2 separate regions of the Homo sapiens genome follow, and region 1 is linked to region 2. Evidence: fine-mapped expression QTL. A gene starts in region 2. The other region holds a variant in brackets. All regions are shown on one strand. Distances are from middle to middle.

What was found. PIP is the estimated chance that this variant, and not a neighbour inherited with it, causes the effect.
Region 1: its variant is fine-mapped to the expression of PLCG2 in whole blood (INTERVAL, PIP above 0.99). The same link has a PIP of 0.9 or more in unexposed skin.

The regions. Positions count from the first base shown.
Region 1 is chr16:81,921,558-81,937,717 of GRCh38, reverse strand. It overlaps PLCG2 (phospholipase C gamma 2), which reads right to left. Exons shown (of 33, transcript NM_002661.5): 22 at 14,124-14,233; 23 at 10,540-10,636; 24 at 9,094-9,160; 25 at 6,064-6,221; 26 at 3,187-3,289; 27 at 1,340-1,549. Among named protein-coding and RNA genes, the nearest start is that of SDR42E1, 82 kb to the left of the region's middle. The variant C/G (reference allele first, on the strand shown) is at 8,702.
Region 2 is chr16:81,771,425-81,785,721 of GRCh38, reverse strand. PLCG2 (phospholipase C gamma 2) reads right to left here and starts at 6,431. Exons shown (of 33, transcript NM_002661.5): 1 at 6,298-6,431. LOC105369213 (a long non-coding RNA gene) reads right to left here. Exons shown (of 4, transcript NR_189584.1): 4 at 8,369-8,550. RefSeq lists silencers at 6,126-6,205, 6,216-6,315, 6,346-6,615, 6,644-6,938.

The DNA.
Region 1 (16,160 bases), 150 kb before region 2:
GCACGCTGGCCCCCTAGGCCAGGAGTTTCTAGGTGGGGAATGAATTTCACCTTTTCCCCAAATTAATGTGAGGCAGCTGTTCAAATAGGTATCTCACTCAAAGAAAATATAGGGTTTCTAGACAGCAAACTCCCAGACTGGGGAACACCTTTCCAAGTATGTCACCAAATCCCGAATCATAAAAGAAAAGATTCAAACTTGCTAAAAGTGTCTATGTAGCAATAAATTGCATAGGCAATTTTAATTCAAATGACAAATATGTGAATATAAATTTTTAACCTCTTAGTTCTGATACATCTATGCTATAAATACCTACTGCAGTAGATACATCAGGTAAGAAGCACAAATAGTTCCCAGAAAAGAAAATGCCACTGCTCCCTAAATGAGGGAAAAACTGGTTAATGTCCCTTACAAGAAGAAGCTCTAATGGACGACGATGTATCAGTTTTCACCTCTCAGTTGTGCAAACGGCAAAAAGTTCAACAAAACTCAGCGAAGTCATACCAAAAGAGCGTACTCCAACCTCCACCTATTTGCATCCCCGCCCACGATCTCTATGGAGGGCAGTTTGGCAGTGTGGCTTAGCTCAGGCACGTCTTCAGTGGTTTTCCTCAGGGCAAAGTTGATCAAAATGCAAGCGCTGTTTGACCCACCCTGCCTTTCTGAGAATTCTGTCCCATAGACATATTCCTACATCTGTGGAATGGCGCTCACGTCAGGGTACAGAAGGCAGTGCTGTCTATGACAGCAAATAATGGGGAATACCTACATGTGCCTCCACGGGGACTTATTAAATAAATGATTGTTCCATTCTGTGGAATCCGATGTGGCTATAAAAAGAATGTAAAGGAGGCTACTGATGAATAGATCCCTCGAAAGAGGTCTTAAATAACAACAACAAAAGCACAAAGCCCCGTGATTTATGCGATCACTTTGTGTCCAGAAGTTTGTGTATGTTAGTTATGCCAGCATGTAAATGTCTCTGGAAGAAAGTCTGAGCAGAAAGCCCTCACACAGCAACAGGCCTGGAGAAGAGAACTCCAAAGATGCTTTAATTACATGAACTAATGCATTTTCTTTTTCTAAGCCAGACTAACTCAGCCTCTGTCACTTACTTACAATCACGAAGCCTGCGTAAGCCAAGCAGCCTTCGGTCCTCTCATCCCTCCATTCAGCTGCTGGACCTCATACTAACCATTACTCTGCTGAACCGTGCAGTCCCTCGGACAAATCACTCATTCTTGGACACCACATGGTATCGCTGACCCAAGGTGACTCGGCCTGGAGTGACTGCAACCGCCACCTTGCAGGGACGGGACTACCTTCAGTCGGCCTTTACCTGCCGTCTGGAAATTGAGTGCCACCATCTGAGAACCGCACAGCCAGAGGCGGAAGGGGTCGTAGTTTGAAGAGTCAACTCTTTGTCCCTTTGGGTAGACGCGGGTCAGGCCCTTTTGATTGTACTTCAGGAGGTCGACGGGCTTCTGTCTGATGATGCTGTCAGCCTTCGTCTCCACAAAGGAGCGGATTTCTCGGAAGTCAGGATTTTCTGCACACAGAGAAAAAGGTCATCAGTACTTCTGTGTCTCATCTGTGCATTTTCTTAATGTTTGCTGCAATGGCTGGATGCTCAGATTATAAAAGGAAACCAGGAATCTCCCTCTTTGACATTCAAGGGGTTCTGATGATATTGTCCCAATTGGTATCACTGTGGACTCTTGCCCTCTGGGGGTTCCAAGTATTAAAAAGGGGCCTAGTTTTCCCACCACCTTTTAGGCTAGAATTACTGTAATTTACTTTTTTTTTTAAACTATCACCATCCTTGAACAAGAAAACACAAAAGTGGTACAGTTATAGAAGAGGGAGAATGGGAATGGTTTTGGGTAGGAGAAGATCTTGGGAGGGGAAGATCCAGAGAGACCACAGACACAAGATGAACAAACTGAGAATCACCTGCCAAAGCCCACAGGTAGGGTTGCAATGTGGGTGCCTGTGCAGGGAAGGGAGAACAGGAGGAGAGGGAAGGGGACAGGCCTCATCTTCTCTCCCATCCAGCTGTGGTGGGATAGCCCGGCAGTCAACATGCTGAGCCTGCTGAGTCCCTGAAGGTAGAAGTTCCTAGGGACTGGCCTCCCGGTAAGTTAACTGAGGGGTCTAGTATTGTCTGGCTGGTCTTCTGTTCTAAGATGAAAGATATGGAAGCAGCTCAAAACACCCAAAGAAAAAAATACGTACAGCATCATCAAAAAGCTTGCTACCTGGAGAATGTGGTAGAAGGTCTTTTTTTTTTTAAATGGCCCCCAAAGATGTCCAGGCCCTAATATCTGGAGCCTGTGCATGTCACTTTATATGGCAGAACAGACTTTGCAGGTGTGATTAAGGAGCTTGAAATGGGAGGCTTATTCTGGAATATCCAGGTGGACCTAATGCATCACAAGGGTCCTTATAATAGGGAAGCAGAAGAGGAGAAGGCCAAGGAATGCCAGCAGCCCCCAGAAACTGGAAGAAGGGAATGGCTTTCCCCTCCGGAGGGAGCACAGCCCTGCTGGCACCCTGATGTTGACCTCATGATACTGATTTCAGACTCTGGCCTCCAGGACTGTGCAAGAATAAATGTTGTTTTCAGCCACCAAGTTTGTGGTAATGGCAGTAAGAACTAAATCCACCCACTAAGTGGGTGATATGGTTTGGCTGTGTCCCCACCCAAATCTCACCTTGAATTGTAGCTCCCATAATTCCCACGTGTTATGGGAGGGACCCGATAGGAGATAATTGAATCATGGGGGTGGTTTCCCCTGTACCGTTGTTGTGGTACTGAATAAGTCTCGCGAGATCTGATGGTTTTATAAGGGTTTCCCCTTTCACTTGCTTCTCATTCTCTCTCCTCTGCTGCCATAATTGTGAGGCCTCCTCCACGTGGAACTGTGAGTCCATTAAACCTCTTTTTCCTTATAAATTACTCAGTCTTGGGTATGTCTTTATCAGCAGCATGAAAATGGACTAATACACCAAAAAAGCTTCTGCCACCAGCTCCCTCACTCGGAGGACAAACCCAAGGTGGGGCCATCTACTGGGAGTAGTTAAGAATGAGAGAATGCACTCTCTGCCCCCTCTGAAAATATCAGACTCTAAAGGAAGTTAAGTTTTCATTGGAGTTATAGGGCATGTTCTTGGGAAAGATGTTACCTAAGTTGTCCTTGGTTTTGCTGGTTGGTTTGCAGTAGACAACCAGGTCAGAGAGCTCGATGGCGATGGACTGGTTCTTCTCCCAGTACTTCATGTTGTTCTCCTGTTTGGAGTTCACTGTCTTTAGTGCCCGCCCCCGAGAAATCCCATCTTCCCAGCTCGCCCTGCATTTTTCCTCCTCCATCCCCACTTTGCTTTCTTGCACACTCGGATCTTTAATATGGTTGAATGTTTTCCTTTCCTGAAGACAACCCTGCCCCTCTCGTTTCTTCCTCTCACTGTGAAAATTCTCGACAAAGCTGTTTCCACGAGGTTTTGGTGTGCAGCTCAGTCCTGGCCACAGCCCTCAAATATAGGTGAGGTCAGGATGGAAGGGGGCTCTTCTCTGTCACCACCCCTCTGTCTTTAACTCTGCCTCCTGTCCCCTCCCCTAAAGCCACACTGTTAGAGTGTCTCAAATTCTAGTTCTTCAAATCCTCGGGGGCTCTGTGGACCCCAGCATCCTCGTCATAACTCTCTATCCCCTGCACCCTCAAAACCTGCACACCTGCTCCCCAGCTCTGACTGCCCATCAGGGCTCTGTCCAAGGGGACCACTACCCAGTGCCCAGGCCATGTGCCATGGACTCAGGAGGTACCTCCCTTCAGAAGACCCACCATCAAATCTAACTCCTTGCATGTAAGGATGAGCTTCTCACTTCACCCCAAAGCAGGCAACCCTGTTGGGCCTCCCCAAATTCTATCAGACTTTTATTGGCCAAGGGGGGACCTTGAGAGAATATTTAGATAATAATGGTGACTGTTTGGGGGGTGCTTAGCTCTAGCCGTCACAGGCTAAGCACTTGAGGGATATTACCTAAGTCAATCCACACCCTGACAGGGAGAATTATCTCCATTTAACAAAGAAGTTGAGTAGCCTGGGCAACAGAGTGAGACTCTGTCTCAAAAAAAAAAAACAAAAAACAGCATGACAATTACTCTCCAGGCCTGCAGCTGTCACCCCTCAAGCCATCTCAGAATGGGAAGTCACAATACAGTTGGTGAGGCTCTGGAAACCCACTAACTAGAAGGATTTTGTGACTGCCCTCTGCCATCAATGAGGTGGCTACAGACCGTGTAACAATGCGGGCACTTAGGGACAGGCAGAGGTCCTGGCAGTGACAAAGAGTTTATCCGCCGCTGGTTTCCCAAGAGTGGGATGGGGCCTTCTTCCTTTGCTCCCCAACACCAGCTCCGCAAAAGGGGTAGCTGTGCCCAGTGTGGGAACTCCGTCAACTCTACTGTCCCAGTTTTTTTACCCCTCAGATGTAATAACAGGACTTTAAAAATCATTCTCATGAAATCTCAGTAAATATAAAAACCAGTTAGAGAGGAATGCAGACCAAAGGCCGCCAACAGCAACCTTGAACAGCTCAGCTTCATTTCAGGAACCTTCACGCGGCAGGAGAGGAGGTGTGAGGCAGGGGAGAGACAGAGCCTTCTAGGGAAATAACACTTTTCCACATTAAGCAAAGTAGAGAGAGCTGGAGTGCACTATTTGGAGATTTTTTAAATAAACCTCAGGGTCGTGGCACCTCCCTGTGCCTCAGAGCTGTACTGTGGCATCAGAGACACTGGAGGGCAGAAGAGATGGTTTCACTGGGAAAGCCAGAAGGACAGCGCAGCTGGCTACAAGCTCATGGTTCCTCCCCCATGGCTGGTGGTGTGAAAAGCCATGGGAAGAATTAGGAGCCCTAGGGAAGGCCCCCAGGAGTTCCTGGGTCAGAGAAAGACGATGCCCCACCAGCGAGGGCACCCATGGACCAGTCCCCTCTGCAAAGTCTCCTAAAGAGGACACTTCCCTGCAGAAGAGTTGAGTGAGTCAAGGATCCTCTCGTGACCAGGGACTGGCCAAGATGTGAGGCCCTCCCAAGGGGAAAAAAATGACCTGGCCACTGGTGGGTGACTATCTTGGAGGAGAGACTCACTGACTCTAGCCAGAAGTCAGAGGGCACAAGAGGCCCCAGGAAGGCTTTAATCAGCCCTTTGGGTCAAGTTCTACCTTAGAAACAAATGGGTGCATGGGAAACCCTACAATTTCTTTCCAGTTCGGCAGCCACAAGAACAGACAGCCCTTACTCCATCATCGAAGACAGGGTGGCACTTTCCCATGTCGCTCTGATATAATGATAAGGCAGTGATTAAGTACTTGTGAGTTAGGAATTTGGCTCCTCATTTTGCAGACAAGGAAACTGAGGCCCAGAGAAGTGTGGTTACTTGCCCAGGGTCCAGCCCTGCCAGGATGCAAACTCCAGTCTGCCCAATTCCAGACCTCCTATTCTTATCCAGAAGCTCACACCTTCCCAAAACACTTCCAGCCAGAGACTAGTACTTCAGGTAGGACAGCCCTGAAAAGGTCACTCCCATCTAGAGGGGAAGTTCCTCCACCGGAAAGAACCGGGTCTCGCTGATTTGCTATGTTCCCAGAGCCCATTCCAGCTCCAGGCAGGTGAGCTCAGTGAACGTTTTCTGTCAGGAGGATCCAGACTGCTTTATATGATACTTAGAAAGAAAATATTCAAAATGAGGAAGGCAGTAACTTCCTTGGTAAGATATGTAGGGCCGCAAAGACATCATCAATGAGCATTGCTGCAGGCACTCAGCCTTCTGAAGGTTCGAACCAGACAACCAGACCCACCTTCCCAGGGCACCTCCACTATCCCTGCCTCTCTCTAACAAGAGGTGCTCCAATTGTCTGAATCCACCTGGTCTCCTTCCTGAATTCTGAGTAGGACCTGGGCCTGCTCATCCTGCTGCCTGGACCCACCCACAGTCCCAACTGAGCACCAAAGCCCTCAGAATGCCAGGCCCACCTGCACCCGGGTGAGCAGGTGCCTACCTTGGTGTCAATCTTCCAGGTGATCTCTCGGATGCTCTGAAACCACTCAAAGAGCTCCTCCACCCTGTCTGTGGCAAACTCCACCGGAGGATCGCCCTGCTGCTTGGGCTCCAGGATGAAGACAAAGGACTTCTGGTTTTTTCCCTGAGGGGCTTTCACTTGGGGTAAGAGAATAAGAAATGTCCCAATCAGCCTATTAGAGGGCCACAAAGACCAGACTGCACCCTGCCTGAGCTGTTTCTCTCATGGACCAACCACCACTGCTATGACCACGGTTAGCACTGATGGGGACGTCTACTTTCCATCGGGGTAAGTACACATCACAGATGACTACTCAAGGGATGCAGTAGATTCAGTAGGGTCCTCCGAAAAGATGTGTCAGGTCACCAGTACCTGTGAATGGGACCTTATAGGGTCGTTGCAGATGTACTTAGGTTAAGGATCTCAATATGAGATTATCCTGGATTTAGGGCAATTCCAACATCCAACAAGTATGAGTATCCTTATAAGAGAAAGGAGAGGGACACTTAAGATGCAGGAAAAAAAAACAAACATTAAAATGCATGAGAGAACCTGAAAAAAATACCCTCTTGTCCACTTTAGTTATAGACATGTGTTCGTCTTGATCAAAAGAAACACTGAATATCTTTTTGGTTGACCAATTAGAAAATGCTTTTTACACTCATCATAAATATTTTTTACAAATTACTAAAACAATACATGTTCATTTTAAAAATATTTAAAATATAGCTAAGCAACTTGGCATTTTTACAAAATGTTTACATACAATACATAAAATTTTGTGAACTGTTTCACTTAGCATATTGTGCATAATTTTCTATGTTGTTACATATAATCTTTTACATATAAAGAATAAATAATTTAAATGGCTTTTTTTTTTTTTTTTGAGACAGGGTGGCACTCTGTCACCCAGGCTGAAGTGCAGTGGTGCGATCTTGGCTCCCTGCAGCCTCCACCTTCCAAGTTCATGCGATCCTCCCACCTCAGCCTCCCTAGTAGCTGAGACCACAGGTGCACACCACAAAGCCTGGCTAATTTTTGTATTTTTTGTAGAGAGGGGTTTCGCCATGTTGCCCAGGGCTGGTCTCGAACTCCTGAGCTCAAGCGATCCACTCACCTTGGCCTCCCAAAGTGCTGGGATTACAGGAATGAGCCACCACACCCAGCTAAATGGCTTTAAAAACAGATGCAGACACAAGGGAGAAAGCCATGTGCAGGCAAATGTGGAGACTGAAGAATGCAGCCATGAGCCAAAAACACCAAAGAGTCACCAGAAACTAGGAGAGAAATGTGGCGTGGGTTCTCCAGACACAGAGAAAGGATCTTACAGAGAAGAAAAGATTATGACAGGGAAACTTATCTGCCAAATAATATTAGTAGCTAAGATTTCTGAGCTCTTATATACCAGGCAATATTCTAAGCAGATTACATGTATTGCATCTTTATTTTATTTTATTTTTTTAATTTTGAGCTCTTGCTACATTATCCAGGCTGGTCTCAAACTCTTGGGGCTCAAGGGATCCACCCACCTCAGCCTCCTGAGTAGCTGAGACTAAAGGCACCCTGCTTTTGCTAGGCCCATTTTGCAGGAGGCAAAACTGAGGCTCATTAAGAGAAAGTCACATGTGGAAAGTCATACAGCTAGTAGTAGTAAAACTGAGGCTCAGTTCAAACCTGACTCCAAGATTTCTACTCAGAACCAATGAGCCATGTGCCTCTGCTCTGCAGATACAGGGATGGGGGAAGATGATACAAAGAGCACCAGAAGTGGATGCAGGGATCCTGCACCCCCCTGCCCAAAGGACCTCAGCACATGTGGTGGTCGGTCACTTAGGACCTTGATTTTCCCATCTGGTAATCGGAGCAAAGAATCCCTCTCCTACCTATCCTGCTGGATCATTGTAAAGGTAAAGAAGCAGGTTATAAATGTGGAAAGCAGGCTGGGCATGGTGGCACATGCCTGTAATCCCAGCACTTTGGGAGGCTAAGGCAGGCAGATCACTTGAGGTCAGCAGTTTGAGACCAGCCTGGCCCACATGGCGAAACCCTAGCTCTACTAAAAATACAAAAATTAGCCAGGCACGGTGGCCCATGCCTGTAGTCCCGGCTACTCAGGAGGCTGAGGCAGGAGAATCACTTGAATCCAGGAGGCAGAGGTTGCAGTGAGCCAAGATCACGCCACTGCACTCCAGCCTGGGTGACACAGCGAGACTCTATCGCGAAAAGAAATAATAATAAATGAATGAATGTGTAAAGCAGAGCATTGGCAATAGAAGCAGGAAGTTCCTGGGGCTGCTGTCACCTGAGTCCTAGGGGAGCATGCCCGTGCCTGCCCAGGGAGGGTCATGGGCTGCCCAGAACAAGGAGGCCCGCTACAGAGTCCCTTCACATGGGAGCTGCACCACACCCACTTCAAAGCAGGCAGGCTCAAGACCCAGGAAACCCAGCACACATCAGACCCTGGCCACCACTGGACAAGCCTAGCCTTGGGGCCACGCCTTCACATCCCGTTGCAGCATGGTCAACGTGGGCGGGCTGGGTTTCCTGGGCCCCAGCCGAGCAACCAGGAAGCAGAGGTTCAAAGAGGAGAAGTGACAGGCCTGTAGTCTCACAGCGA[C/G]AGAGAGGCAGAGCTGGGTTTAGAACCCAAGACTCCCAACTCCACGCTGCATTTCAGCCAGGCTGACAGCTCAGCTTTCCTTCGCAACGCATGGGAAACACAGATGGATCCTGAAATAATAAGAGTGACGCTGGTAATAATATCCGCTAACCACCATCTAGCACTTATGTACGAGACCTTGTTTTAGCACTTACAGTTTTAGTAGAGATTAATAGCAGACATAGCATCATACTCACTGACCAGCCTGACCTAAATACTCAGCTTCAGCCAGGGAAGGAGCTGGCATTCAAGACAGGACCCTGTGTCAGCCACCTCCCTGTGTAGGGCGGGGCTGAGGTCAGCCCATGGGGGATAGGGGTGGAAATCCAGGCTAAGATGATGTGTGCACGTACCGACGTTATAGGTATTGAGGTCCAATATTCCTCTGCAAAGAGACCCTAAGGGATTGTCTTCAATAATCTGTGAAGAAACAAGACATAACTCACGTTAGTTGTAACGGGAATAATAAAAAGAAAACCCGTTTCCAAAGCACACCGTTTAGCAGAGATACTGCCTGTGGAACTGTTTAAAATGCATTTTCATTACCAGATACGTCCATGGGGAGAGAGCTAAATAATGAAGCATGGAGCTGATAGGGACCTGGCGGGGAGAGGGTGCCAGGAGGTTCGGAGTTTCATTTTCCAATCCGTAAAAACGTGCCTTGTGAATTCTAGAACAGGTTTCATAATGCTTCCTCAGATCTGGTTTCCAAACACATCCTAGACTATTTATCTGACCTTATTAGAAAATGAGACTATTTTGCCTACTAAAGCCCGGCTCAAGAACCTTCTGTGGCTCCCCATGTCCTGTGGAAGCAACACCCATGCTCTATGACCTGGCTTTTAAGACTTTCAGAGCCCCCATCACCCTTTCCAGCTCTGCCTCCCATTGCACCCTTGAACCATCCCAGGGTCTGGCTGAGATGAAGAATATCCTGGGCTTAGGAGAGGTGGCAGAACCAGGCATCCACTCCTTGCCTGCACCACCCCAAACCCCACCCCCTGCACCAGGTAAATGCTGATGTACAGGTAAGGGCAACTCAGTACAGAGGAAGCAAGGGCTTCCAGTCTCTGCCTCAGCCCAAGCACACGGAACACAACCACATTCCCACTGCCACACCTTTGCTTAGACTGTACCTCCCACTTGCACCTCTCTTCTGCCAGTCTCTTGCTGTTGAACTCTAACTTGACTTTTAAGGGTCAAATACTCCTTCCTCCAGGAAGCCTTCCCAGATTGCCCTACATCCCTTAGAAAATAAACACCTGGGGGTCTAACGGGATCTTAAAATCCTCATTACAAAGATATCATCCTTGGTGGAGTGCTAGCACGCTGAAAGTGGCTGCTCTCTAAACAAGAGGCGGCGAGGGAACAACCACCAGGTTTGCAAAGTCACCAGGAAGGCCTCATCTCACCTCTGGTTAGGCCCACTTGCTTACTCGCCCCAAGCACGTTCTCAATGTCTGGCTGTCCAATATAAATGTGTTTCATCTGCAAGTTGCTTAAGCAAAGGACAAATTCCCCATTTGGTCACTTTCACTCCAGCGGGAATTCTCCTGCATAATGAAATCCTTCCAAGCCCAACACAACCTGATTAAAACACGGCCGGCTTGTCACAGCAACTCACCCACAACAACTCAATCTCAATTTCCCTATCATCACTGTGTCTTCCCTGATCCAGAGCTCCACAGAGACCACAAGCAGCACATGGAAAAATTCACCCACTGAGATGGCACAGCTCCCTGAAAAACTGGACCTGCAGATCCCTTCTTCCTGTAAGAGGATCGAAGAGGGGGACTCACCTGCTTTTCTAGCTCCTCGAAGTCTGCAGTTGAGATGTCCTCGACGTAGTTGGATGGGAAGTACTGCTGGATCCTGGTTCCATAGTCTCCTTTCCACCTGGATAAGAAGAGAGGACATGGGGGCGCTGTCACCAGGTGGCATGAATTACCCACTACTGCTCATCTGCACCCGGCTGCTGGCTCAATTCTGATGGGGACAGACAGCAAGTGGCCAAGTGACCAGTGTCACTATCTGTGACAATGGAGCATCTCAAAGGCAACTGCTGTCTTTTTATTTTTTAATTACTAATGAGTTACTGGGGGCTGATTTTACCCCCATCACATGATCTTAATGTTTAATCAAAGATCACAAGTCAAAAGTTTCCATGCTTTACGTGGAAGTCAGAGACCATACAAGACAAAAGTTCACCCCTATTTCGGGGAGGTTGTGAATTTAGAGAGAAGGTGGTTCTGGAGGCAGACAGGCTGGAATTAAACTCCAGCTCTACCACTGACGGTGGAGGCTTTCTGTGCCTCCAACTCTCCATCTGAAAAATGCATAAACGTGAGTGCTTCCCTCAGAGGGTTTTATTAGGACTCTAAATTAACATAAGCTGAGTGCTTGGGACAGCGCCTACCTAGTACACAGTAAATACTCAATAGTGTTAGCTCTTATTATTATTCAGCTAAAACATTGTTCCCTATCTTTATAACAACACTAACAACACGGGACATAATCCATCTATGAATGTTCCTGGACCCCACCAGACGGTGAGCACCTCTAAGATTCCTCCCGGCAAGGCCGTGCCCAGACATGCAAACGCCCTCCTTCAACCTGCCCATCTCTTGAGCTATTTTCCGCAGCCAGGGACTCTCCAAAATGCACCTCTGACCACACCACATGATGGCTCCCCAGGGCCTCCAGAATCCAGCCCAGACTCTTCAACATGGCAGCCACGGCCCAGCACAGTCTGACCCCAGGACTCCCAGACATCACCTCCTAACTCTCCATGATGTTGACTCCAGCTGGCCCGTCGTCCCTATCATGCCCCTGCCATGCTGCCTAGCTTCCATGCCTTGGCCCATGCCCTTGGTACCCAACTTCCCCCCACTAATTTAAGACTCAGCTTGGGCATTTCCTCTCCCACGGAGTCTTCCCTGACTGCCCCCTAGGCTGAGCACTCTTCCTCTGTGGTCCCCTGGCATCCTGTCCCCACAGTCATCCAAGCAGCCACATCTTATACTTAACGTATAATTATACATCTGTCTTCCCCTCTATATGATATCCTTCTGGATTTTTTTTTTTTTTTTTTTGAGACAGAGTCTCACTCTGTCCCCCAGGCTGGAGTGCATGGCACGATCTCAGCTCACTGCAACCTTCGCCTCCCAGGTTCAAGCAATTCTCCTGCCTCAGCCCCGCCAGTAGCTGGGATTATGGCATGGGCCACCATGCCTGGCTAATTTTTGTATTTTTAGTAGAGACAGGGTTTTACCAGGTTGGCCAGGCTGGTCTCAAACTCCTGACCTCAAGTGAGCCACCCGCCTCGGCCTCCCAAAGTGCTGGGATTACAGGCGCAAGTCACTGCACCCGGCTGACCTTTCTGGATCTTAATCAAGTCTGTGCTCCGTGGTGGTGGGAAGAACTTAACAATTTTTTGGTCTGAATAAGCAGAGTGAGGACTGATGCTACCAATTCACCTAGCAGAGACACAGGACTGCGGGTTGTAAGCCCTTTTCACGCCCCCCCGCACCATTTCTCCAGACCCACTTCTGGCAAGGGCTGGCTGTATTTACGGCGATCATATATACCATCTGTCCAGGACTGAGCACTTTACATTCTCTTCACTCTCAGGAGCATCTTGGTTCAGACAATAATTGTTTGGTCCCCTAGCTACAGGGAACCAGTTTGGAAGTATGCAAAAAAGCCGGTTTCACCCAGGCGGCCCCCTAGGTAGCACTACTGCCATCAGAGAGAGGAATTGACCACAGCCGCTGGGCGGTTTGCCCACAGTCCCTTGCCAAAGGGACTTCTGACAGTCTCTTAAGACAAGAGCCTTCGAAATTCAGAGAACTGCCTGTCAGAGGCATAGAAAGGCATGAGGCCATCTCACACAGAATGGAAAACCGTGATTTGGAGTAGTCACCTGGGCTCCAGCCACAACTCCAAAAATGTTGTTAGTCACCCACCCAGTGCGCACCAGGATGTTGACCAAGGCAGGGACAGGAGCCCAGTGAGGGAACGCCAGTGTGCCTGGAAGAGACCTCAACTCTGTGCCACTTCGAGTGGAGGGACTTCGGCAAAGCCGAGCCTCTGAACTGGGAGAAGCAGACGGACAACACTGTGGTTGCCCAACTGGGTCTGGGAGCCTCCAAGGGGAAGCATCAGAGGCTGCAGTAGGAACAGCAATGTCAGCAAGGAGGCCAAACAGGGCAATTCTACGCCCCCACTCCAGCTCAATGGGTAACTCGGCTGCATCTTTGATTCTGTGGAATCTAGGTATGAATTGGTTTGCAATGAGGTTCTCCTGATTTTAAGAAAAAGTTTGATAATCCCTGGATTAAGGCATCTTGCAAGAGGACAGGGAAGGACTTAGCAGATGAATGGAGTTAAGAGTGTAAGCTCTGGAGTCAAAAGGCCTGGCGGTTCAAATCTCAGCCTGCTATGTGGCCCTGGACAAGTGACTGCACTTCTGAAGGCTTCAGTTTCCTCATCGGTAAAATGCAGGTAACAACAGAACCAACCTTTTACAGTCATCATGTAGACTCAGTTATTTCAAATGAAGTGAGTTATTTCAAACGTGCTTAAAACAGTGCTTGACACATAGAAGCACTCCATGCATGCTGCTATTCAGATTCCTAAGCCAGGTCCAGTTATCTTGTGGGAGGCAGAAATGCCAGTCTATGAGGTGCTTAAACCAGTGCTCACTATTATGAGCAAGTTCTTATTGCTCTCAGACAGAAGTCACCCCACAAAACCACTTCCCCAGAAACCTATCAGTGGGCAGTGAATTTTTCTTCTAAGGTTAAAAAGCGAAGTGGTAACTAAACCCTAGCATACCCAGGTACCTTTGCACGAAAAACGTATTGTCTTCAATTCAGGATGTGGCCATTGCACACAGCACGGGACTATGGAACAGCATACGAATTTGAATTGGAAATAACACACAGTCTTGTGTATTGGAAAGCGCCTGCACTATTTAGTATTTAGTATTTATTTGTGTGACTTGGAAAGTCTCATTTGCCGCATCTTTTGTCACAGGGAGTAATGAAGATTTGGTTGAAGATTTGGTTAGACAATGCATGGAAAGCAATTAGCAGACTGCTTGCCACTTAGAAAGACTTCAATAAATGGTAGCTGCTGTTGTAATTATAATAATATACAATATATGATATGATATGTCGATACCTGTTAATATTGTTGTTTATCCATTTTCTCAAATAGAGCATGCACCAAGCCACCTTCCTAAGAAGGGACTTAACACAAGAGGTCAAAGCCAGCCCAGGATGACAAAGGGGGTCAGACTTGGCCAGCACCTGAGTCTTATCACCAAGAAGGGACAAGTCAAGCCCACCTGCCGAGCAGCCCAGCCTCCACTCAGCCTTACCAGCCCCCGGGCTCCTTGGAGACATTGTGGATGAGGGCACCACGGCAGAAGCTCAGCTCATCGCTTCGCTTGGCTTTGTAGTCATACAGAGCTTTCACGGTTCTCTGAGGCTTTCAGGGAAAACAAGAAGGAAAAGGTCAGGCCAGGGACAGGAGGGGAGGGAGGCGGCTGCGTTCCCAGGTACCATTTGGTTCTTCTCATTGGGGAGCAGGAGGCTTCAGGCCAAGGTTACAAAGTCATCTGCTGGAGAGGGACTGGCATTGCAAAGGATCGAAGGCCCCAAAAAGCCACCAGGGAGTGAAGGAGAACTGGCCTAGTCAGAGCCAAGGGTACCTGGGTTGGGGTTAAGGGTTAGGGGTTAGGAGTTAGGGTTTGGGGCTAGGGTTTAGCGCTGGGGTTAGGGTTAGGCTTAGGGTTAGGGTGGGAGTGACCCTATATTGTAGTGACACAATATTGCTCAATTTCCTCAACAAAGAAAGGACATGCCTTTTAGATTAAGCCAAGACTGTCATCACAGTGCCGGTGCTCAGCAAGCCTCCCAGAAGCTCAAGGGCAACCCCATTCTTCCTGCCTGTCCTGAGGGCCTCATTGCTCTGTTTTTGTAGGTCAGCAGTCCCCTATCTACACTCCTGCAGGACCCTGACATTTTGCAAGAGTAACTGAGCTTCTCCTCCATGAAATTCATCAAAAGGTGGTCTCTGTTCACAGAACTAAATAAGATAGAACTTCCTTGGTTAGAAATTTTCTTCAATGAATTTGCTTTCATGCTTTCTGCCTGGCGGGCATAAATGAACACCCACACGGCAAGCAAATGTTAGTGGGAAAAGCTCTGACGTTGTCAAACCTGTTTAAATGAGCAGCTTCCTTCTCCTCCCACCCAAAGGAAATGGGAACAGGAATTTCACAGGGAACCTAGTAAAATTTTTCCTCAGAACACAGGCTACAGAGTCAGATATGTAGGTTCAAATCATTGCTCTGCCCTTGAATAATGATATAAGTTTGAGTCTCTCTGATCCTCAGTTCCCCCGTCTGTGAAATGGGAATTAAATTTTTATATATTTCACAGGGTTGTTAAGACTACTAAATGAGATCATGTGTATAATGATAAAACTGACAACAGCTTGCACTTCTTAAGTGCTAACTATAGTATCGCTAAAGCATTATTCCAAGCCTTAAGGTATCTCCTTTAATCCTTAAGCAACCATAACAGGTAAGTAGTTATATGAGTATGCCCATTTTGCAGATGAGAAAACTGAGATGCAGAGAGAGAAAGTAATTTGCCCCACATCGACCAGCTGTTTTAAGTGGCTCAGCCCAGAACTGGATCCATCAATGTGAGTTAGTGCCATAGTGCATGATGTTTCATAAGAAGCAATGTGGGTTCTAGGAGCTCTGCCACAGGGATCTGCAGCTGGAGGCCAGAGGCTAAGCAGTACCCTTGCCTTTCTCTCCCCCACCTGCAAACAGAGCAGCCTCTACTTGCGTATCCTGCTTCAAGGGTGGATATAAGGACCAGCCAGTCTCCAAGGCCACAGGAAGGAAAAGTCATCAGTTAGAGAGGTGACTGTTCTCATCGCCAAAACATCCTTCACTACTAACAAAAGTTTTTGCTACTAAGGTCTCTTAATGCATTTCACACACAGCTCAATTTGCCCACAACTTTTCAAGATTTCATTTCTTTCTGAAACAGATCTGCATTGGCCATGGATTATAAATTTTTGAAAAAGAAAGTCATCTCTGGATTTCAACAGAGCCCACAAGCAGGGCCCCTTCCTAAGTGAGCGTTGTACACTAATTGTGTGCCACATGGCCCCCAAACAGAAAATTCGCTGTGGTTCTTCCTCTGCCGGCTCAAACTAAATTTGAGATGAAAGCATGGCAAGGAGGAGCCGAGGGCTGAAAGTAAAATCCATCCCTACCTGCATGAAATTACACAACAGAGTCAGGGTGGGAATATGAGATAGCATTTGCACTGCAAGGAGGTCAGTGAACCAAATGGAATTTATAAACACCACAGGCTCTGTCAGCGAGCCAAAA
Region 2 (14,297 bases):
CCCAACCGTTACGTGGGCTTTGAATAACCAAATCACCCTGACCTGGCAGTGAGTCCCCTCTCTCCCCACCCACTCTTATCCTAAAGAATATTTGAATAGCCAAAGCAGCCCAGCCTGGCTCCCACCTCTCACCCCTAATCTCCAACATCCTTCTCTATCCTGTCTAGAGATTTCTAACCATCTCTTTATTCCTGAGCAAAATTAAGAACAAAAAAAAAAAAAAAATGAAATAAACGAAAAACAAACTAAACCTTCAGAATCATCCATGGAGACTTTGGCAAATGGTTCCTCTGCATAGAAATGAGGATGAAAGGCAGGAAATGTCAGGTCTTGGCAGCTTCACGTTCAAACCCTAGAGAAGGTTCCTGCTGACTGTGTAGCTCTGGGTAGACTGCTTGACCTCTCTGTGCCTCAGTTTTAGCCTTTTTAAAATGGGAGTGTTCAGAAATGCCCCAGCAAAGCACCTGGGGTGACGGCCAGCACCTAGGAGGTGTCCTTGATTGCTGTTTATGCTTGTGGGTGGTCAGTGTCAGAGAGGTGCTTGGGCCCAAAACCTTGGAGGAATCCTTGCGTGGACTCTCTCACGACCACTTCCAACGCATCTCACCCTTTCACCGGCTCCTCCTAGGATCTCATACTTGAACTATTCTAATCCTGCTCTCCCCACTTCTTCCCTGACCTGCTAGGGTCAATTCTCAGATGCAGAGCCAGAAGGATCCTTTTAGAACATGAATCAAATCATGTCACTCCTCTGCTCAAAATCCCTTAGTCCCTCCCTGAGCCCTCACTCTGTACCATTCCCTCATTCTGCCTCCCAAATCCCCAGAAACACATTGCCTGCCCCCAAAATAGGACTTAGAGTGAAGGCGCTCCCCAGGCCCTGGAGCTGAACCACCAGGGACCCCCTTGCCAGCTAGGCTGCAAGAAGTCACTTAGATCCTCTGGGCTCATTTCCAGTCCCATAAAAGAAGGTAACAGTATCCACCATCTAAATGTTTTTGTAAGGCTTAAACAAGATAATGTATCTCAGGCCCTTAAAACAATGATACAAAGTCAGCACTCCTTAGATTAAGCTATTGTTAAAATTACCATTATTTGTTCTGTTTCTTATCTCCTCCTTTCCCTCCAAGTCCCTGGAGGTGCCTGGAGTTGTTACTCTGTAGCTCTCAAGGTTACAGAGTAGCACTAGAGAGACCCTCCCAGGATCCAAAGAAGGAGGAGTGAGAGGCTGGTGTTCAGCCAGGGCTGTCTGTGCTTCCAGCCGGGCTCAGCCTTCTGCCAAGCTGCTCTAAATCTGTGGCTCGGTTCCCTCATCTGTAAAATGGAGGTTAAATGCCCACAAGGGGCAGCTGGGAAGACAAAAAGCTACAATGTATGCACAGCCTGCAGCATTTACCAGGGTCTCAGTTAGCATTAATCAGCCATTGGGGAAGGCATTAATCAAATGTCAACTCTATGCCAGGCACTGAGGTGGGGACTAGGATGCAAATGAGGGGAATGGGGAGGGGCCCAGGATTTGCCCTTTGCCCCCACCTCCCTCTACTGCACACCCATACCAAAGGGACCTCCTCGGTCAGCCATGCCAGCAGCAGGAGATAATTACACCTGCTCTCTGCCCATGGGGAAACAGACTAATCAACTGAGAATTCTAATGTAGTTACAAGTGCAGCAGCAGAAGCATGCACTGGGGGCACGGCGGGCAGAGAGCAGCAAGAAGGAATCCTAAATTTAATCTGGAGTGTGGCTAGGCACTTAAAGGGCTCAGAAAAAGCTTTCAGGGGAAAAAAGCAGGCATCTGAACTCAATCTTTCAAAAAAGATGAAGCAGGAGGAACTGGCTTTAAGTTTAAGCAAAGGCTAGGAGGCAGAACAGAGTATGCTAAAAAAAAACCCTGCTGAGAGTTAATGTGCATCTTACCTTATCAGGAGAAACCCAAAATGACCTCCTGATCATTAGCCAGGACAAAGGGATGAACAAGGTGCCCCCATGGTCCATTTCATCCTTGTTAAGCAGCCATTTATTGGGCCCTTCCCCAGGTGCCAAGCACCTGTTGTGTCTGGTTCGTCTCATTTATCTCAATGGGAAATACGGCAGCGGAAAACTGAAATCCCAAGAGGTCACATTACTTGATCAAAGTCATGTAGACCAGCAGCAGCACAAAGATCAAAACCCTCACCTGAGTCCCAAGCCCCTAGTCCAGAATCCTGTGGCAGCATCTGGCCAGATATTAACTGATTTGCCAGTACTTGCCACTCTCAAAAGAGGTTAAGGGACTTATCCGAGGTCACACAGATAGAAAGTAGCAAAACGAGTTAATGGGTGCAGCACACCAACATGGCACGTGTATATATATGTAACAAACCTGCACGTTGTGCACATGTACCCTAAAACTTAAAGCATAATAATAATATAATAATAAAATTTTAAAAAAGTAGCTGAAACTGGATTTGACCCAGCTGCCAACCACAGAGCTCTTCACTATGTTGACTGTTCCCAGCCATGCATCCTGGAGTTCCCCACTCCCAGGTCTCTAGGCCATAGTCCACTGGAACATAAGTAGGAAACACAAGCCCCATTATAACACCTTCAATTAGACAGAAACCAGGACAAGGGACCAGGCTCCTCAGTTCTTTCCAGCCCTCACTCTGGGAGGGCCTTGGACTTAACCTTCCCCAGGGTCCCAGTTACTTCCAGCTTCGAAGCCCAGTGGATCAACTCAGCCATAAACACCAGACTTCCATGCTGCGTCTCACCAATTGCTTTGTAATAGCTGCTCACAGGTTGCCCTAAAGGAGCAGGGGTGGAATTTACACTCTCACCTGCAGTGGCTGACACCGTTCCTTTGAAAACACTGTATCCCCTCTGATGCTGCAGGGTGGGTGTAAGGTGCAGCAGTAATGTCCATTCAACTGTTGGAGGGGCCCTTACCACTCAAGTATTTGCCTGTGCCCCATTTTAACAGAATCGTTTTGTGGGATTTTGGATGAAATCCTGTACTGGCTTAACATGCACAGAGCACTGAAGAGAAAAACTTCCTTGATTTCTGGTTTGGGGTTCTTGTATCTCACGAAATGCCCTTCTAAATAAGCTTGTGAGATACAAGAACATGAATGAGCTTATGAGATGCAATTGGAAACAGATCTTCACGGCCAAAAGATCCCTGGAGTCCACCATTCAAATCCTGCCAGCACCCAGCTCAGGTCTCCAGCGTTCCACGCTTTATCAACTATGGCAGGGAGGTCTCCAAGACCTTGAGCCCAGGAGAGAGCACCAGCCACCACAGCAACTTCCATTTTGCTTCTGCTTTTTTTGGTTTTTTCAAAAAAAGAAAAAAAAAAGCCTTGAAATCCCTTTTTTGTTCCTGTTTCCCATTCTTAATGGGTAATTCTATAAAATGACTTATTTTGTAAATACAAATATGGCTGAGTTTGAATAACTGATTTTTGCCATTTTTACATTTCATGTCCTTCTAAAGGTTTTTCTTGTATCTCATAAGCTCATTCATGTTCTTGTATCTCATAAGCTTATTTAGAAAGGCATAAAATGGGCCAGGCACGGTGGCTTATGACTGTAATTCCAGCACTTTGGGAGGCCGAGGTGGGCGGATCATGAGGTCAGGAGATCAAGACCATCCTGGCTAACACGATGAAACCCCGTCTCTACTAAAAAAAAATACAAAACAATTAGCCGGGTGTGGTGGCACATGCCTGTAATCCCAGCTACTCGTGAGGCTGAGGCAGGAGAAAGGCGTGAACCCGGGAGGCGGAGCTTGCAGTGAGCCGAGATCGCGCCACTGCACTCCAGCCTGGGCGACAGAGCAAGACTCCGTCTCGGGGGCGGGCGGGGGGGGGGGGGGAAAGGACATGAAATGAGATGCGAGGACCCAAAACCAGAAATCAAGGAAGTTTTTGTCTCTTCAGTGCTCTGTGCATGGTAAGCCAGTACAGGATTTCATCCAAAAATCCCACAAGACAATTGTGTTAAAATGGAGCACAGGCAAATACTTGAGTGGTAAGGGCCCCTCCAACAGTTCAAGGGACATTACTGCTGCACCTTACACCCACCCTGCAGCATTAGAGGGAATACACTATTTTCAAAGGAATGGTGTCAGCCACTGCAAGTGAGAGTGTAAATTCCACCCCTGCTCCTTTAGGGCAACCTGTGAGCAGCTACTAAAAAGCAAAACACGCATATGCTTCGATCCTGCAATTGTACATGTAAAGAAAGACATGCACAAAGATGCAATATGTACGACAGAAAATCACGGAAGCAATAGTTGCAATAGAAATACAAAAAAAGAAAAAAAAACAGAAAACAACTGCTCATCAATGTGGGGGGCCTCCTGGATAAATAATGGTGCACATGCACTGAAGAACGCTCAGTAGCCATCAGAAAGAATGAGGATGATAGATAAGCAATTTGATCTGGAAAGATTTGTGAGGTCAATAAAAAAATAGCTTCAGACAATAGTTGCAACTGTATGAGTATAATACAATTCCCTTTTTATAAAGGTGATCTTCTGGTAAATCCAGGAGAGTGGTTACTATTTATCGGAGGCTGGGAGAGGGTAGAGGATACAACTTGACTTTATTTATATTAACTGATGATGTAACGGGCAAATTTTTCTCTTTGTGTTCTTGCTGTTTTCTAAATTAAGAAGTGTTTGTGTGTGTTTGTTTGTTTGTTTGTTTGTCTTGAGATGGAGTCTCTCTTGTCACCCAGGCTGGAGTGCAGTGGCATGATCTGGGTTCACTGCAACCTCCACCTCCTGGGTTCAAGTGATTCTCCTGCCTCAGCCTCCTGGGTAGCTGGGATTACAGGCGGCCACCACCACGCCCAGGTAATTTTTGTAGTTTTAGTAGAGATGGGGTTTCACCATGTTGGTGAGGCTGGTCTGGAACGCTTGACCTCAAGTGATCAGCCCAGCTCGGCCTCCCAAAGTGCTGGGATTACAGGTGTGAGCCACCGTGCCTGACCAAGAAATGTTTTCAAAAGTTTTCTCACCAGCAGCTTTTCATTGACTCTACCCAATGAGTGCAAAAGGGCTATTCATGGGGTCTGTGCTTTTCCACTTCCAGAGGAACTGCCCATACTCCAGTCGCTGGTGGGGGAAGGCAGCTGCATCATTAGGTGACTTAAACATCAGTGAGGCTCACAATGACGATTGTCCCTGAGCTGGTATACACGTGACTGCACACACACCTTTGCAAGAGAAACTGCTTGAGGCTGGCATAGACTTCAAAATTCTGTAAAACTTCCCCGCAGAACTGTAGTCAAGGACGAGGGCCCATGCCCCAGAGAATGCCCTTGAACCAGAGAGTCAGGAACTGCCCAAGGACTCTCCATGGATGCGCCCCGATTCTCAGCGAACCTCGTGGAACAGCAATAAGCCCCAATTCTCGACACAGCCCTGGAAAATTGGGTGGCTCCAGTATCCAGAGGGGGAAACAGACTCAAAAAGGTTCTTCAACTTGCCCAGGGTCCCACTGATGGAACTGAAATTCAAATTAAGTTCCGACGGGCAAGGCCACCTGTTTCCCTCGCGCCATGTCACCCCTTTACCACCCCGCCCCCCATAGTTTCTCACCCTAGTTCAAGATTAGGGTACCAAGAGAGCCCCGCCCCACCGTCCTGCTGGAATCCAGGAGCTCCCCGTCCAAACGGGGCACGTCTTTAACCTGAACTCTTGCGCTGTGCGGGTAATGCCCTCTTTGGGATTCCAAAACACAACAAAACACAACACGCACAGACACACGCATAATTACGCAGACAGCTGCGGAGCGGGCATCGCGAGTGTCCTGCAAGCTCTCCAAAAGTCTCCGGGAAGGACTGCGCCTCCCGCGGTATCGCTCCCACCCGCCACCCGCAACCACCGAAGTGAGACAGGGAAGTGTGGCTCCGAGCGTCCGCGAGCTCTGGGCACAAGGGCCGTCAAGAGAGACGGCGCCACCCCACGCAGAGCCGCTCGAAAAGAGGAGTTTTGAACGCCAGCCCCCACACGACCCCTGACCTTCCTCCCGGTCCCCATTCAAAGCTGGGGCCGCCCCACCGCACGGACCGGAGAGGTGGCGCCGGCCCGGGGTGAGGAAGTGGCCAGCGGCTGGGCCAGGATCCCTGCCGTCACCAAACGGACCCCGGGCACGGCGGGCCGGGGTCCCCGAGGGTGCGCCCCGTCCCTGCCCGCTCCGGCTGAGCCAGGACGCAGACCCCCTCGGACGCAGCGCCCTGGGAGCCGGTCCCCGCGGGGCGCAGGTCCCTGGGCGCCCTGCCTGCCTCGCTCCCGGCCGGGCAGCTCACCTGGCCGTGCCGCCCGGGCACAGCTGCCCGCCTGCCCCGGGTTTGGGCTCCGGGGTCCCGCGCGCGCAGCCCGCGTCCCGACTCGGGTCACTCAGCGCCGCTCACGCCCTCCGCCGCCGGCGCTCGCTACTTCTGCTTCGGCCGCGGCGCCGCGCCACGTGATCCTCGGGGGCCGCCCCCCGCACCGCCCAGCCTCGCCCCGCCTCGCCCCGCCCCAGGCGCGCCCAGCCGGGTCCGCCTCTCGGAGCGCACCCCGAGTGCAGCGTCCCCGCGCCCTCCCCGCCATGGAGCGGCCCAGGCCTGGAGCCCCGCCTCTGCGTGCCAAAGAAGAAACTGAGGCAACCCGAGGGGAGGCTACCTGCCCGAGGCCACTTGGCCAGGTGCAAAGGGAATTCCCCAATATCATGGCATTCCTGGAGAGCCGGCCGCAGTCCAGGTGTTTGCCGTATACTTAACACACTCCCGGCCGGGCGCCCGGGCTCACGCCTGTCATCCCAGCTCTTTGGGAAGCCTAGACGGGAGGATCGTCTGAGCTCGAGAGTTCGAGACAGCAATGAGCTAGGATGGGTGTGGCCGAGAGACACTCCGTCTCAAAAATAAATAAATAAAAATTAAAAATAAATATACTCTTCACAATTACCCGCCAGGAATTGCCAATTCATGGCCCTAATTTGAAGCCCTCGTTGAGGCTGCGCTGGAGTCAGACCAACCCTTACTGCTACCTTAGGCAGACCACTTAAAAACCGACAGCCTCAGTTTCCCCATCTGTAAAACGTGATCAACATAGTGCCAGCCCCAAAGGGAGTCAGGAGCAAAGAACCCCAGACAATTGATGTCCCGTTTTCCTGATCTCATGGGAAGAAGCTAATATGTTCTTTAAGAAATTTATTTTTCCGTTCGTGTGTTGCATGAAGCTATCTGATTCAAACCCTTCCTATGCTCTTTGATGGAGGTATCTTTGTTGTGACTAGAGGCAGTTTCAGGGGCACCTAGACAGCTGTCAGGCACTTGAATTTCACTTCCAAGTTGCTTGAGTTATAGCTTCTGTTTTCTAAGAGGCAGGGTCTCACTCTGTCACCCAGGCTGGAGTGCAGTGGTGCCATCATAGCTCACCACATCCTCGAACTCCGGGACTCAAGCGATCCTCCTGCTTCTGCCTCCTGAAGAGCTGGGACTATAGAGGCACACCACACTTGGCTAATTTTCTCTTTTTTCGACATGAGGTCTCACTATGTGTCCCAGGCTGTTCTTGAACTCCTGACCTCAAGCAATCCTCCTGCCTCTACCTCCCAAAGCACTGGGATCACAGGCATGTGCCACTGGTCTGTTATAGCGTTTTTTTTGTGTGTGTGTGTTTTTGGTTTTTTTTGTTTTTTTTTTTGTTTTTTTTTTGTTTTTTTTTTTTTTTGAGACAAAGTCTTGCTCTCTTGCCCAGGCTGGAGTGCAGTGGCACGATCTCGGCTCACTGCAACCTCCACCTCCCAGGTTTAAGCGATTCTCCTGCCTCAGCCTCCTGAGTAGCTGGGATTATAGGTGTATGCCATCATGCTTGGCTAATTTTTTGTATTTTTACTAGAGACGCGGTTTCACTATGTTGGCCAGATTGGTCTCAAACTCCTGACCTCAAGTGATCCACCCACCTTGGCCTCCCAAAGTGCTGGGATTACAGGCATGAGCCACTGCACCCGGCCTGTTATAGCGTTTTTTAATTGAGGAATATCACTCTCACTGTCAATGTTGTATCCCAAGCCATAGGACTCGTTTGTGACTTCACAAGATCTGTGGATTCATTTCTTTCAGCACTCCCAACTGGCGTGTATAGCTGTGCTCATCACCACAGATCACTTAACACATCAATTTTTTAAAGAGATCTTGGAAGGACTCATTATGACATCAACCACTTGAAGTCATTGGGCCAATTCCCCAGGAAAAATGACTACATCTAGGGGCAATTCCTTTGCCTCACTTTTTTTTTTTTTTTTTTTTTAGAACTTCAGCTTGTATTTATTTCAACCAATCTTTTTCACACTTTTGTTTTAGTATGTGTTATATAAAGTACATAATATATTAGTTCAGTCATATATATGTATAATTTATTATTACAAAGTCTACATGGATAGGGGAGTGGGTTAAGTCTCTTGATGGCAAAATGAGATTGCATATAATCAGAATGTGTGGAGACCACTCTAGGGAGCCGTGGCTCCTAAAAGCCTATCTTGACAGATGCCAATTCTGGCTGGATTTTTCTCTCATCTGTGGGAAGCAAGCAAAAAAATAAGAACATGAAGAACAGGTTTCTCTGTTTAATCTATGCCTGTGAGCCTATAGTATTTTTGAGTTAAAATGTCCACTGTGTGTGAGATAATGGTCATCGTAAATGGCAGTTTGCTTTTTTTTCTTTCATGTTTTTAATTCATTTTCTTCTTTGGCTCATTTTTTGCTAACCAACCCCTAGCCCAACCCCACCCCCCAGGTGAACGACTGAAGGAATCAGTGGATTGAAAGAGAGTACTGGAGGCCCTTCATCTCTTTCTCAAACTCTAACTTGGTTGTTCAAAATAAAAATAATCTGCCAGGTGCAGTGGCTCATACCTGTAATCCCAGCACTTTGGGAGGCCAAGGCAGGCGGCTTACCTGAGATCAGGAGTTCACGACTATCCTGGCCAACATGGTAAAACACCCTCTCTACTAAAAATACAAAAATTACCCAGGCATGGTGGCACACACCTGTAGTGTCAGCTACTCACGAGTCTGAGGTAGCAGAATCGTTTGAACCCAGAAGGCAGAGGTTGCAGTGAGCCAAGATGGTGCCACTGCACTCCAGCATAGGTGATAGATCAAGACTCCATCTCAGAATTAACAATCGTCGTCATCATCAAGGCGGCAGGCGCTGTTCTGGGAGGACTCTAATGTAAAATGACACTTCTTTTCCCAAGGATAATAGGTGGGGAAGGAACCATTCTGTGTATTCTTTCTTTTCCATGGAATAAAATAGGTAGGGAAAGAAACCACTCTGAGCCGGGCGCGGTGGCTCACGCCTGTAATCCCAGCACCCTGGGAGGCTGAGGCGGGCGGATCACGAGGTTGGAAGATCAAGACCATCCTGCTTAACATGGTGAAAACCCGTCTCTACTGAAAATACAAAAACATTAGCCTGGCCTGGTGGTGGGTGCCTATAATCCCACCTACTCAGGAGGCTGAGGCAGGAGAATGGCCTGAACCCAGGAGGTGGAGCTTGCAGTGAGCCGAGATTGTACCACTGCACTCTAGCCTGGGCAACAGAGTGAGACTCCGTCAAAAAAAACAAAAAAGAAAGAAGGAAAAAAAGAAAGAAAGAGAGAGAGAGAGAGAAAGAAACCACTCTGTGGGTTCAGACATATGAGGTAGAAAGGCCCTGTCACAGGTTAGCTGTCAGAGGGCTAGAGTGGGTTAAGTCAGTGGGTGGTGGGGGCTGGATTTGAACCTCAGCCTGTCTGGTGTCAGAGCCCATGGGCATGCTGACCTGCCACCCATCCCCAGATTAATAAGAGGCATTCAGGCAGGGAGATGTGAGTTTGTAACCACTCTACATAGATGCACAAATGGGTCAGGAAGTGACCTCAAAGGGTAGAGGGATCTTTCTTTTCCTTTTCCTACAAAAGAAAGAAAAAGGGAAGTGGATAGGTAAGAAAGAATAACCTGAAAGAAAATTACATTTTAAGCTGAATCATCTTGACTCTTTGTATTCTGTGTTGCTCACCAGTCCTTGGGCATACAAATGCTTTTCCCTATTACCCTCTTCTCTTTGCTGGCAGCCATGGTGCATTGGACCATTAGCCTCTCTGGGTATCAGTTTCCTCATTATTATACCTATGGGTATCAGAAATGTACCTACATCTGAGGGGGACTGTGAGATGAGGGAGGTAAAGCCCTCATCCCCATGGGGCAAAACCAAGGCTGACTATTTTAGGAATTGTTACTGGGAAGAAGAAGACCTCCTGTGAAAGCATGAACTTGGAAACAAGGAATCTGGGCTCCAGTTCCAAGTCTGCCCCTTCCTTAGTTTTATGGCTGTGGGCTGCTCAGCCACCCTCTTTGGACTTAATTTCCCCATCATAAGACCCACCTATAGCATATGCAGAATTAGCAAATCTACAGAGACAGAACGTAGATCAGTGGTTGCCAAGGACCAGGAAAGCAGAGAGCGGGCCTATCGGAAGGTAAAAGATAAGGGGTACAGGGCTGCTCTTTGGGATGATAAGAATGTTCTAAAATGGATTGTGACGATGGCTGCTCAGCTCTGTGAATGTGCTGAAGCCTCTGTACTGTACACTTTACATGCATGAGTTGCATGGGATGTGAATTATATCTCAAGAAAGCTGTTTTGAAAAATATCTGTGGACTGGGCACATTGGCTCATACCTGTAATCTCAGCTATTTGGGAGGCTAAGGAGGGTGGACCACTTGAGCCCAGGAGTTCAAGACTAGCCTGGACAACATGATGAGACCTCCATCTCTACAAAAAACTTTAAAAATTAGCCAGGCCTGGTGGAGTGAGCCTGAGTCACAGCTACTCGGGAAGCTGAGGCAAGAGGATCACTTAAGCCCAGGAGGCAGAGGTTGCAGGCAGTGAGCCGAGATCATGTGCCACTGCATTCCAGCCTGGGCAACAGAGTAAGACCCTGACCAAAAAAAAAAAAACACCCTTAGAGGGTTATTTCAAACCCAGACCTCCTTTCCCCTCCTCCACCACCACCTCCAAAGGCAGTGACCAGGCTGAGGTCCACCGCCCTGCCCCAGGGAACCTCGCCAACCCTACCCCTCTACCCCCACAGCCAAAATGACCAGAAAACCCCCTGGAGCCCTTGAGTCTAGTTTCCTTTCCCAACATTGTTCAGAGAAGCACACATCCGTGGCGACGAGCCGAGTCCCAGCTGCTGGCTGGCAGGCCTCTGTGAGAGGAAGTACCACCCAGAATGGGCTTTCAATGGGGTTAGGCCTCACTGCTTCTGGAGGTAGGGGAGGGCAGACCCCTCTGCTATTTAAATTGTGGCCAGCTTGGTGGAGCCCCCGGTTTAATGGTTTTGTGGGTTTTGTTTTGTTTTGTTTTTTTTACTGCCCAGGCTGGAGTGCAGTGGTTGGATCTCAGCTCACTGCAACCTCTGCCTCCTGGGCTCAAGTGATTCTTGTGCCTTAGCCTCCTGAGTAGTTGGGACTACAGGCGTGCATCACCACGCCTGGCTTTTTTTTTTTTTTTTTTTTTTTTTTGTATTTTTAGTAGAGACGGGATTTCACCGTGTTACCCAGGCTGATCTCAAACTCCTGAGCTCTGGCAGTCCACCCACCTCAGCTTCCCAAAGTGCTAGGATTACAGGCATAAGTCACTGTGCCCGACCCATGGTTTTGCTTTGAGCACCTCTAACCTGGAGTCCTGGTGGAGCTCATTTATTCATTCAACAAACATTTGCGGAGTGCCTGCAAGGGGCCAGGCACTCCCAGGCTCCAGGGATATAGCAGCAACCATCAAAGTCCTGCATGATGGGCACAGAGTGTAGTTGGAGGAACACAAAAAGGGGGCTTTGGAGTGAGACAGAGCTGGTTCCAGTCCCAGTCGCTCACTCTCTGTAGCTCTGCACAGCATTTGCAGCCGCTGTAAGCTTCACTTTCTTCTTTGGTAAATAGGGCTGCTGTGGAGGAGTGAGTCTGCGAACGCATATCCAAGTCCTGGGCATGGATCCTGGTTAGATGGGACCCCTGGAGCTGACTCAGTAGTCACTACATTGCAATGAACTCTCAACATGCGGACCCTGTTATGCTAAGAACCAGACTGCAACCAGGCATTTGCCAGGCCCCAAACCTCATGTAAAATCAAGACAGCCAGTTGAAAGCCAAGAGCAATAGTGTACAAGAGCAGCTGAAAACATGGGACACAGAGACAGGTGGGCCTCAGTGTGAATCCCAGCTCTGCCTCTTACCCCCCTGTGTCTCCAACAATGTAATAGTCTCTGAGCCTCAGTTTCCCAATCTGCACTGCTGAAGACAAAAGCCCCTCGTTCTCATGTCTGGAGTCTCCACTAGGACGTATTCAGCTTCCACAAAAAGGCTATCAATGATCTCACATTGCTGGAAGCCCAGGAGTGGTTGGGGTGCAGACAAGGTACACTGAGAAGTTCAAGTGTGTCAACAGGGACACCGATTATTTCCACATCTGCCACTCCTGGCAACCAGACCTGAAAGGGAAGAGACTGAAAAGAGTACACCTTTTCCCAACGCCCCCCCACACCCAGCATGCTTTCCCTCTGTCTCATTGGCCAGAAATGGGTCACAAAGCCTGCTCTGCCTCAGTCACTCTCCAAGAAAATGGGATTTTCCACATTTGGCAGTATATTTAGGATGGATCAGCTTCCCCCACATCATGAGAGGATGCCCAAGAGTATGTGGCCAAACAGGGCAGCTGTCGGCAGGGGCAAGGGGAGATGGTGTCAGGCAGGCAGTCTGCAGGGTCCTGCAGTGGTCATAGGCTGCACCAGGCAGCTGGCACAGAGCAAGAAGGCATCCGAAGGTCTCCCTTTTGTTCCCACCACAGACCAGCAAGCCAAGCTTCCTTTCTTAGCCTTTTCAGTCATTCTTTTTTTTGGAGATGGAGTCTCACTCTATTGCCCAGGCTGGAGCACAGTGGCATGATCTTGGCTCACTGCAACCTCCACCTCCCTGGTTATCCTGCCTCAGCCTCCCGAGTAGCTGGGATTACAGGCATGCACCACCACACCCAGCTTTTTTTTTTTTTTTTGTATTTTTAGTAGAAACAGGGTTTCACCATGTTGGCCAGGCTGGTCTTGAACTCCTGACCTCAGGTGATCCACCCACCTCGGCCTCCCAAAGTGCTGGGATTATAGGCGTGAGCCACCGTGCCTGGCCCCTTTCATTCATTGGACAAACACTGAGCCCTTATTTAATACCAGGCCCCGTGTCTTACCTTCCAAAGGCTGCCGTAACAAATTACCATGAACTTGGTGACTTAAAAAAAAATAGAGATATATCATCTCACAGTTCTGGAGGCCAGAAGTCTGAATGCAAGGTGCCAGCAGCAGCACTGGTTCCCTCCTTAGGCCCTAGGTGAGAATCTGCCCCACGCCTTTCTCCCGGGTTCTGTGGTTGGTGGTGATCATGCGCTCCTTGGCTTGGAGCTGCATCACTCTAACTCTGCCTCTGTCTTCTCATGGCCCTCTGCTCTCTGTCTCAAATACCCCTCTCCTTTCTCTGGTAAGAACACCAGTCCTCTGATTGAGTGTCCACCCTGAATCCAGGATGTTCTCATCTTGAGATCCTTAACTTAATTACCTCCATAAAGACCCTATTTCCAGCCTTGCACCAGTGGCTCACACCTGTAATCCCAGCACTTTGGGAAGCCGAAGTGGGCAGATCACTTAAGGCCAGGAGTTTAAGACCAGCCTGGCCAACATGGTGAAACCCCGTCTCTACTAAAAATACAAAAAGTAGCCAGGCGTAGAGGCACAGCCTGTAGTCCCAGCTAGTTGGGAAGCTGAGGCAGGAGAATCATTTGAGCCCAGGAGGTGGAGGTTGCAGTGAGCGGAGATCCTGCCCTGGCACTCCAGCTTGGGCAAGAGAGAGAGACTCCAACTCAAAAAAACAAACAAACAAGCAAACAAAAACAAAAACAAACCTTATTTCCAAGTAAGGTTACATTCACAGGTGCAGGGTTTAGGACTTAGTTTTTTTGTTGTTGTTTTTTTTGGGTGGGGGGTTGGGGGGGGTCACAATTCAACCCACTGTACCCTATATTAGGCAAATAGATTAGACCTATTTACCTCTCAATGGGGAGACAGCAGGAAGAGGCATTTACTATCACAGAATGGCAAGAGCTGAATTAGAGGGACAAATCAGGCAAGGGCTAATCCTCTGCCTCATGGAGCTGCGAAGACTTCTCAGAGGAGGTAACCTCAGAACTGGGTCCTGAGGGATGAGCAAGAGTTCTCCAACAGCACCAGAGAGAGGGAAGC